Linked DNA regions of Homo sapiens. Changing the gene in region 1 together with any one later gene gives a genetic interaction. Each region holds a gene or a part of one and is shown in the gene's direction. Other genes may lie near its edges. The genes, in order: MBTPS2, ERH and CKAP5.

What was found.
Region 2: changes in MBTPS2 (region 1) and ERH together harm fitness more than expected from each alone (negative genetic interaction), as found in Homo sapiens cells (one large-scale study listed by BioGRID).
Region 3: changes in MBTPS2 (region 1) and CKAP5 together harm fitness more than expected from each alone (negative genetic interaction), as found in Homo sapiens cells (one large-scale study listed by BioGRID).

The regions. Positions count from the first base shown.
Region 1 is NC_000023.11:21,877,617-21,881,116, forward strand, and holds part of MBTPS2 (membrane-bound transcription factor site-2 protease), read left to right. Parts: intron 1-425; coding exon 426-520; intron 521-880; coding exon 881-1,076; intron 1,077-3,280; coding exon 3,281-3,356; intron 3,357-3,500. UniProt on the Homo sapiens protein: Zinc metalloprotease that mediates intramembrane proteolysis of proteins such as ATF6, ATF6B, SREBF1/SREBP1 and SREBF2/SREBP2.
Region 2 is NC_000014.9:69,388,079-69,391,814, reverse strand, and holds part of ERH (enhancer of rudimentary homolog), read left to right. Parts: intron 1-3,736. UniProt on the Homo sapiens protein: May have a role in the cell cycle.
Region 3 is NC_000011.10:46,742,365-46,745,333, reverse strand, and holds the end of CKAP5 (cytoskeleton-associated protein 5), read left to right. Parts: intron 1-756; coding exon 757-908; intron 909-1,068; coding exon 1,069-1,311; 3' UTR 1,312-2,286; downstream 2,287-2,969. UniProt on the Homo sapiens protein: Binds to the plus end of microtubules and regulates microtubule dynamics and microtubule organization. Acts as a processive microtubule polymerase. Promotes cytoplasmic microtubule nucleation and elongation. Plays a major role in organizing spindle poles.

The DNA.
Region 1 (3,500 bases):
GGATGTCTTAGGCAACCTCTGGCCCCCTCTGTTTACCAGCACCACAGTGCAGGGGTTCAGCAGTAATGTTGGATCATTGGCATTCAGGCACATAATAGTAGTTCATTAAATGTTTGTGCTTGACCAGCCAGACTTATTATTGTGAAACCTACTGAGACACTGCAACTCCGGCTTTATGGGTAGCTCAGTTTATATGAGGACAACTAACCTAGGGTAACTGCTGCTTCATGATTTAAAATTGAATGGATCTCTTTTGGTAATGTAAAATCAAACTGCAGCAAGTAGCCCTCAAGCTGAACTCTGAATTATACAGTTGCTTCTAAATTCATATGCCATTTTACTTATTCTTTTTGTCTTAAAGGCATTTTTTGTTACAAATGTATTTTTATATAAGAGACTCTAATAAACAGTGTATTTCTCTTTAGCATACAAACGACTAGATGGTTCAACTGAATGCTGTAACAATCACAGCCTCACAGATGTGTGCTTTTCCTACAGAAATAATTTTAATAAGCGTTTGGTAAGTTGTCCCTGAAGCAGTCTTGCTTGTCTGATATAATTACTAAAAAATAAGCATATAGAGCTAAAATGGAATCTATGGAAACTTCTCTCTTTTGCTCTATTTGTATCATTTTATTAAAATCTCTACATTTCACATGTCACATTTCATCTGAAAATCTTTAAAAATTTATAGTGATAATATCTTATTTGACCCAAATGGGGTACTTGAATCTATTTTATAGTAGATGCACATAAATGGCATTTCTTTTATATGAACCTCATTCCTGATATGCTAGGTGACATGAAAAATATTGAAGGAATGTAACTTAGGTTTTTCTTAATCATTTTTAATATTGACTGATTAATATTTTATTTATAGCATACATGTCTTCCTGCCCGGAAAGCAGTTGAAGCAACTCAAGTTTGCAGAACCAATAAAGACTGTAAAAAAAGCTCAAGTTCAAGTTTCTGTATAATACCTTCTTTGGAAACTCACACTCGCTTAATAAAAGTAAAACACCCACCTCAGATTGATATGTTATACGTAGGACATCCTCTGCATCTTCACTACACAGGTGAGTATTTTTGTGGTAGACCCTTAGAAAATCATTAAGATCACATATAGTCTCAGTGGTAGAGACTCACTACAAATCCTTGAATTAATACATTTATTATAAATTTGATCATTTATCAAAGTCTTGTTAACTTGTTCTTAAGCATTAAGTGAAAATTATGCAGTAGGAAAATAATCTGAATTTATAAAGTAAGGTGGAGCTGAATCCATGCCTGCCTATGGAGAGTGACACATTTTTCCTTCCCTACCATTTATGCCCAGGTCAAATAGGTGATCTCTCAGATGTCCTCTGAGAGTTTATTAAATTTATACAAGCTCCCCAAAACAGGCAAGAGCAACATACCCTAGAGAATGCCAGGATGCATGGGGATGTAACTGTAATTTATGTGTGACACATGACTTTCATATGAATATACTTTCAAAACTGGGCCAGCATAATCATTTTAGCAGTGGCAGCATCATTGGACTAAGTTCTTTATGGCTAAAGATCATGTAGTCTAACTCATTTTGTTGTACAAGATTTTTAAAATAGTTTACCATGCGATTTACCCATTAAAGTTTACAGTTCAGTGGGGTTTTGTTTGTTTGTTTGTTTTTGTTTTGTTTTGAGACAGATTCTCACTCTGTCGCCCAGACTGGAATGCAGTGGCTCAATCTTGGCTCACTGCAACCTCCACACCTCGGGCTCAAGTGATCCTCCCACCTCAGCCTCCCAAGTAGCTGGGACTACAGACGTGTTCCACTGTGCTGGGCTAATTTTTTGGGTTTTGTAGAGACGGAGTCTCACTTTGTTACCCAGGCTGATCTCAAACTCCTGAGCTCAAGCAATTCTCCCTCCTCAGCCTCCAAAAGTGCTGGGATTACAGGCAAGAGGCACTGTGCCCGGCCCAGTGATTTTTAATATATTGAGTTGTGCAACCATTACCACAAGCTAGCTGCAGAATATTTTCATCACCCCAAAAAGAAACTCCATAACCATTAAGTAGTCACTCCCTGTATCTCCCCAACACCCCCAGCCCTTGGCAATCTCCAATCTACTTTCTGTTTCTATAAATTTGCCTGTTCTTGTCATTTCATATAAATGGAATATTTTATGACTAGCTTCTTTGATGTAGCTTAATGTTTTCAAGGTTTATCTGTGTTGTGGCATGAATTAGTACTTCATTCTTTTTAAGGCCAAATGATATTCCTTTGTATGGATAGACCACATTTTCTTTATTCATTCATAGTTAATGGATATGTGGGTTTTATGTTATTCTTTTTTTTTTTTTTTTTTTTTGAGACGGAGTTTCGCTCTTGTTGCCCAGCCTGGAGTGCAATGGCGCAATCTCGGCTCACTGCAGCCTCTGCCTCCCGGGTTCAAGCAATTCTCCTGCCTCAGCCTCCAGAGTAGCTGGGATTACAGGTGCCCACCACCACGCCCAGCTAATGTTTGGTATTTTTGGTAGAGACAGGGTTTCACCATATTGGTCAGGCTGGTCTCAAACTCCTGACTTCAGGTGATCTGCCCGCCTTGGTCTCCCAAAGTGCTGGGATTACAGCGTGAGGCACCGCACCCAGCCTATGTCACTCTTTAAAAGACTCTCTCATTGCTCCATAGTCATATCCTGAGATACAACCGAGGTCATTTTTCTTATCTATTAGTTTGACACTAAATTACTGTAGACTGTAACTATGAAATAAAACCTCAACAAATGAATAAATGTCCCTAGTGGGGGTAATTCAGGAATGTGTACTGTGAGTTCTGACTAATTACAGGATAGTTTTAAAATGTTTTGAACAAAAACAGGATTATGGAATCCACAGAGTAGATGAGACTTTAAATCCCCTCATCTTAATCCTTGGTTTAGCCATGAAGAAAAAAAAAAGACCTGAAAGAGGTTAAGTAGTATAATAGTAGGAGTAAATGTAATTTTAAGGTTATACCTCTTTGAAAGGGTAAGGACTCTTAATGTAAATTTCTTACTCTCGCCTCAAAATGTAAGTACACACTGGGACGTATTTTTTCATTCTGCTGTTTTTATTAGATGTTCTAGAAGTATTGATTGCTTTTATATATGAGGTATATGGCCTGCATATGTTTAGGAAGGGCTTTCTCAATCAGTTTAATCTGCTAGCCCAATTTTTAACCATATGGTAGAATTCATAATGCTGTTGATTCTCTGGTATGAATAATATTTATTATTCCTTATTTTTCTTTTTCAGTGAGCATCACCAGTTTTATCCCACGTTTTAACTTTCTAAGCATAGATCTGCCAGTGGTTGTGGAGACATTTGTCAAGTATCCTTTCTGGTGTGAAACATGTTTTAAAAGTGTGTTACTTGGATCTTGATCAATTTTACCTTGAATACAGCATTACAAATATAGACCTCACAAGTATCACTTAATTGCTAACAACTAAAAAAGAGTCTTGAAAGATGAAAA
Region 2 (3,736 bases), on another chromosome or scaffold:
CTCCTTCCCTGCCACCACCCCCAAACCCCTGATCTTTTTACCATATCTGTAGTTTTGCCTTTTCTGGAATGTCATGTTAGAGTTACGGAGTATGAAGCCTTTTCAGACTGGCTGCTTTAACCTAGCAATATGCTTTTTTTTTTTTTTTTTTTTTTTTTTTGGCGTGCGAGACAGAGTCTTACTCTGTCACCCAGGCTGGAATGCTGTGACGTAATCTCAGCTCACTGCAACCTCTGCCTCCCTGGTTCAAGCGATTCTCCTGCCTCAGCCACCCAAGTAGCTGGGATTACAGGCCTGCGCCACCATGCCTGGCTACCTTTTTTTGTATTTTTAGTAGAGACGGGTTTTACTGTGTAGGCCAGGCTGGTCTCAAACTCCTGACCTCAAGTGATCCGTCCACCTCAGCCTCCCAAAGTCTGGGGATCACAGGCATGAGCCCCCATGCCTGGCCAACCTAGCAGTATGCTTTTATGGTTCTTACTTTTTGTGTGTGTGGCTGCATAGCTGATTTCTTTTTATTGCTGAATAATATTCCCTTGAATGAATGTACCATGGTTTGGTTATCCATTCACTTATTGAAGAGCATCTTGGTTGCTTCTATTTTTTGGCAATTATGAATAAAGCTGCTATAAACATTTCTGTGTAGGCTTTTGTGTGGACCTAAGTTTTCAGCTCATTTGCGTAAATACGTAGGAGAGTGATTGCTAGATTATGTGGTACAAGTATGTTTAGCTTTGTCAGAAACTGCCAAACTGTCTTCAGACGTGGCAGGACCATTTTGCATTCCCACCAGCGTGAATGAGTTTCTGTTCCACATCCTTACCAGCATTTGGTGTTGTCACTGATTTAGATTTTAGCCATTCTAAGGTATCTTATTGTTTTAATTTGCAATTCCCTAATGACATACAATGTCATCTTTTCATGTGCTTATTTGCCATCTGCATCTTTATTGAGGTATCCAGATCTTCTGCCTATTTTTCATTGAGTGATTATGGTTAAGTTTTAGGAGTTCTTTGTATATTTTTAGACATTAGTCCTTTATCAGATAGATGTTTTATAAAGGTTTTCTCCCCGTTTGTGGTGTCTTCTCACTTTCTTAATAGTGTCTTTTGGAGCACAAAAGTTTTTTATTTTTATAAACTTTAACTTGCATATTTTTGTGTTTTTGGTGTCATATCTAAGAAACCATTGGTTTATCCAAGGTCACAAATATTAATGCCTTTATTTTTTTCTATGGGTCTTATAGTTTGGGCTCCTACTTTTAAGTCTCTGGTCTGTTGTAGAGATGTGTCCAACTTCATTCTTTCACATGTGACTATCCTGTTGTCCTAGCATCATTTGTTGAAAATACTGTTCTTTGTTGAATTGTTTTGGCATGCTTGTCAAAAAGCAGTTGACCATAAATGTGAGGGTTTGTTTCTGGACTCTCATTTCTGTTCCATTGATGTAGATACCTATCCTGATGCCAATACCATATTGTCTTGATTGGAGTAGTTTCATAGTAAGTTTTGAAATCAGGAAGTTTGAATCCTCCAGTGTTTTTCTTTTTCAAGATTATTTTGGCTGTCTTGGGTCTCCTGCATTTCTGTGTCAAACTTAGGATTAGCTTGTTGGTTTCTGCAAAAACAGCTTGGATTTTTATGGGAATTGCGTTGAATCCGTAGATCATCTGAGGGAGTATTGGCATCAGGTCTTCCAACTCATGAACATGGGATGTCTTTCCATTTATTAAGCATGGTGTGGTGGCTTTACTTTCTGCATGGCGTGGTGGCTCACACCTGTTATCCCAGGACTTTGGGAGGCCAAGGTGAGCGGATTGCTTGAGCCCAGGAGTTTGAGACTAGCCTGGGCAACATGATGAAACCCCTGCTCTCCAAAAAGTACAAAAATTAGCTGGGCATGGTGGCGCGTACCTGTAGTCACAGATCCTTGGGAGGATCACTTGAACTTAAGAGGTCAAGGCTGCAGTGAGCTGCAATTGGGCCACTGCACTCCAGCCTGGGCAACAGAATGAGACTGTGTCTCAAGGGAAAGAAAAGAGTCCTTCCATGACATTTTATAGTGTAGGGTGTACACGTTTTGTACTACTTTTGTTTCGTTTATTTCTAAGAATTTTATTCTTTTTTACGCTGTTATAAATGGAGTTTTCTTAATTTTATTTTCAGACTTGTTGTTAAGGCATAGAAATAAAATTTATTTTCATATACCAATCCTATATCCTGCAACCTTGCTGTACTCATTTCTTAGTTCTAATAGATTTTTATTGTTTCCTTAGGATTTTATATCTGTAAGATAATGTCATCTGCAAATAATGATGGCTGTACTTCTTCCTTTCCAATCTGAAGGCCTGTTATCTCTTTTTCTTGCCTAATTGCCCTGGCTAGAACTTCTAGTACAATGTTGAATACAAGTAGCGCAATAAATATTCTGGTATTCTTCCTAATCTTAACAGAAAAGCATCCCGTCTTTAACCATTAAGTATAATGGAGGCCGGGCATGGTGGCTTATGCCTGTAATCCCAGCACTTTGGGAGGCCGACGCGGGTGGATCACCTGAGGTCAAGAGTTCAAGACCAGCCTGGCCAAAATCGCAAAACCCCGTCTCTACTAAAAATACAAAAATTAGCCGGGTGTGGTGGCACACACCTGTAATCTCAGCTACTCGGGAGGCTGAGCCTGAGGCAAGAGAATCGCTTGAATCCGGGAGGCAGAGGTTGCAGTGAGCCGAGATTGTGCCAATGCACTCCAGCCTGGGCAACAAGAGCAAAAAATCCATCTCAAAAAAAAAAAGTATAACTGTGGGTCAATGCCTTTTTAACATATACGAATTTATTTTCCTAGTTTTTATTTTCTTTCCATTCATTAACTCATGGGTGATATTCTGTGATCACAATGTAGTATGCCAGTAGCAATAAAAAGCCCTAAGATAGTTGTTTAATAGTTCTGTGGTTGAATAGTGTTTTTATTAGGAAATTTATAAAGTTAATTTGGAGCTAATAAAAGGCTTATGTATACAGTATAGGACATGTTTTTTCTAGATAACTAGCATTTATGTCACTTAGCCATTCATCATAGTAGTCTTAAAATAGTTGACAGCGGGAATAGACTGAAAAGGTGTATTCTCCTTTTGTGGGAATAAGAAAGGAGAGTATCAGGCCGGGCACGATGGCTCAAGCCTGTAATCCCAGCCCTTTGGGAGGCTGAGGCACGCTGATCACCTGAGGTCAGGAGTTCAAGATCAGCCTGGCCAACATGGTAAAACCCCGTCTCTACTAAAAATACAAAAAGTTAGCTGGGTGTGGTGGCGGGTGCCTGTAATCCCAGCTACTTGGGGGGCTGAGGCAGGAGAATCGCTTGAACCCAGGAGGCGGAGGTTGCAGTGAGCCAAGATCTCATCATTGCATTCCAGCCTGGGCAACAAGAGCAAAACTCCATCTCAAAGAAAAAAAAAAGGAGAGTATTATTGAATAAAAACTAAATAGATAATATACTCTATAGCTAATTATAATTAGTAATGTGGGCTTGCTATTAATGATTTTGCTCATTATCTTTTTTATTATATTTAAGTACTTATATCCTTGTTCATGTGCTAATGCTTTATGTGTATTATTTCAAATAAACCTCACAATTCTATGAAGAGGCACTCTTAACTCTGTTTGACAGGTGTGGTTCAGGGAATGGCGTCGTTTGTCCTCGGTTTGACAGGGGCAGAGTTGGAACTAAAGTCTGTCTGAATC
Region 3 (2,969 bases), on another chromosome or scaffold:
AGGAGTCCTTTTTCCCTGGAGTAACCTTTCTACTTTTCTATTTACCATAAGGCAGTGTTTCCTCCCAGTACCTTACCTTTGGGGCCTGTGGAATGCATTTGCATTGATACCAAGTGAAATATTTTAAAGGCCCGCATTGTATCATTGTTCATTCTCAGAAATTTAGGAAGTGTGATGGATTTTTTGTTGTTTTGGTTTTCCTCTCTCCTGCCAGAATATTGATCTTAGTGGTAGGGTTACAGACACTCCAGTTCTATGCCCTCTTTAGATAATTGTTGGACACCTTCTCTTCCCCATGAATACACCATAGCCTTGGACACCTTGCTTCCTTCACAGGTTCAAATGAGTTTCTCCTATGTGACATTGGTCCAAACTTAATCTAATTCTTCCAAACATTTAAGGTCCTCGGGTTTTTCAGTTGGGCAATTACAGTATGCTTAGGAGTAGCTTCAGCTTTTTGGATTGCCCAAGTCAGCCCTGGGATTACTGGAGTACAATCCCCTGCATAACCCAGGATGCAGATGGATGACCCAATTTACATTCTGCCTTTCTATATCAGTTTTTTGCATTCTCAAGAAGCTTATATTGTATATTTCAGAGCACCCTTATCACCAACTCCAGGTAGATTCTTGTGGAATTTGTCGTTTTCAAGTATAGGAAATTCTTAATTGTTCTTTTTGGTGGGAGATTAACCAAGGCACTTTAGAAGGGGGATATGTGGATATCTGAATATTCTTTCTACTTTTTCCCCTCTAGGCATCTCCCCTCAGATGGAAGTCACATGTGTGCCCACGCCCACAAGCACAGTGTCCTCCATAGGTAACACAAATGGGGAAGAAGTGGGGCCATCTGTCTACTTGGAAAGGCTAAAGATCCTCCGACAGCGATGTGGTCTGGACAACACAAAGGTACTGCTCCTTTTCTTCTGTGCAGTTCAGGGAGGGTAGTCACAAGCAGGTCCGAGGCAGGCTGGCCCACAGAGAAGTGGCTTAGTCTTGCTGTAGTTCTGGAGCTGCATCTTGACCTGCTTGACCTGACCTTAGACAATCTCTCTCCTTCTCTCAATAGCAAGATGACCGACCTCCTTTGACCTCTTTGCTCTCCAAACCAGCAGTTCCTACTGTCGCCTCTTCCACAGACATGCTCCACAGCAAACTCTCTCAGCTCCGGGAGTCACGGGAGCAGCACCAGCATTCAGACCTGGATTCTAACCAGACTCACTCTTCAGGAACTGTGACCTCCTCCTCCTCCACAGCTAACATAGACGACTTGAAAAAAAGACTGGAGAGAATAAAGAGCAGTCGCAAATGAAGCTGCCCCACTCCCCCGGCACCCTGCAGCTTTAGTTTACTAAACTAGAAGTCCTCATAGTTTAAAATGGCCTCAGCAGGCCTAGTGTATACAAACTGGTTGTATGTATCATGCCGTGGAGCTAGGGGGAGGAGTCATTGTGGCACAAGTATTTGTACATACTCTGCTTCTCTCTGTCAGCGTCCTGCTGCTCTAGAAGACTGTCCGTGGATGAGTTTAGTGTACAGACTTGTAAACAGCTGCCCCCTCTCTGCTCAGTCTAGTTCCCAGATCCTTTTCTTTTCTTTTTAATTGCTCATTTGTAAAATTGTCCTAATCTTTCCTAGCTTTTTAATAGTTAATATTAGAAACTCTTTAATAGTTTTCCTTTCAGTTTGTGAGCTCTTCTCTGTCGCCCTGAAGGGTCACTGTATTCTGTATGAATGCATGGCATGATACAACTAATTTAAGAGTCTTTTATAAATAAAGTTTGCATTAACTATACCTGACTCCCAAGATGCTCCATATCATGGAGTGTTGGGCAGCAATTTTTTAACTTTTGGTACCAGCTGGGTATTCAGCCAGTTAGAGAAAGGTTAATTACTGCTTACAGAGCTTCCCTTTTTCTTGGCTCACAGACTTGGAGCTGTCTTTTATTCCTTTGGAATGGAAGGAACTCTCCTTCCCTGCTCTCCACAAACAGCTCCTAGGGAGCAGAAAAATCTCATCCTTCCTTGTTTTGAGATTTTGGTCATGATTTCCCTCCAATTATCACCAGTCGTTTCAAGAAGCTCTTGGGCATCCTACCACTTTGCTGACCAAAGGCACACAAGATTGCGCCCAGAGATTGGCTGGGCTTCAGTGGTTCTCACACTACAACTAGATTTGTGTTCATTTGACTAATGGAGTTTGGGAAATCTTAGTGGTTTGCTGCTTGGTTGTATGAGTCTCTTTTGGTCCAGGCTAACAGTTGCTTCACATTCAGTCAGAGTAAGGATGAGAAAGTGAGCTGAGTATTCACCTCTGGAATAAATTCCACAGGACCTCCCTCCACAGTCAGAAAAACTCTTCAGGATGAAAAGGTTCTGGATTCAGGAGGAGATTTTGGGCAGTTATAAAGTTCAAAGGAACTTTCCTATTGTAGCCCACCTTCAATTCAATTGATGTCCAAGAAATGAAAGATTGATGGAAGATTAATCCTGTAAAGGTTCCAGTCATCGTTTTCAGGTGGCCCCGGAGCCTCCTGAAATTAAACTTGTCTCTCCTTTATAGTGGGAACATGGGAGTGGGTATTTGTTCACTGAAGGGATGATGGAGGCGTTTGCTGCTATAGTGGAAAGACATATTTAGAAAGAATGGCTACAAAGGCTGGGCCTGGTGGCTCACTCATACAACCGTAGCATTTTGGGAGGCTAAGGTGGGTGAATCACTTGAGCCCAGGAGTTCAAGACCAACATGGGCAACATGGCTCTACCAAAAAAATACAAAAATTAGCTGGGTATAGTGGCTCAAGCCTGTAGTCCCAGCTACTTGGGAGGCTGAGGTGGGAGGATCACCTGAGCCCAGGAGGTCAAGGCTGCAGTGAGCCGTGATCACTCCACTACACTCCAGCCTGGGCAACAGAGCAAGACCTTGTCTCAAAAAAGAGGAGGGAAACAAAAGAAGAGGAAAAAAAAGAG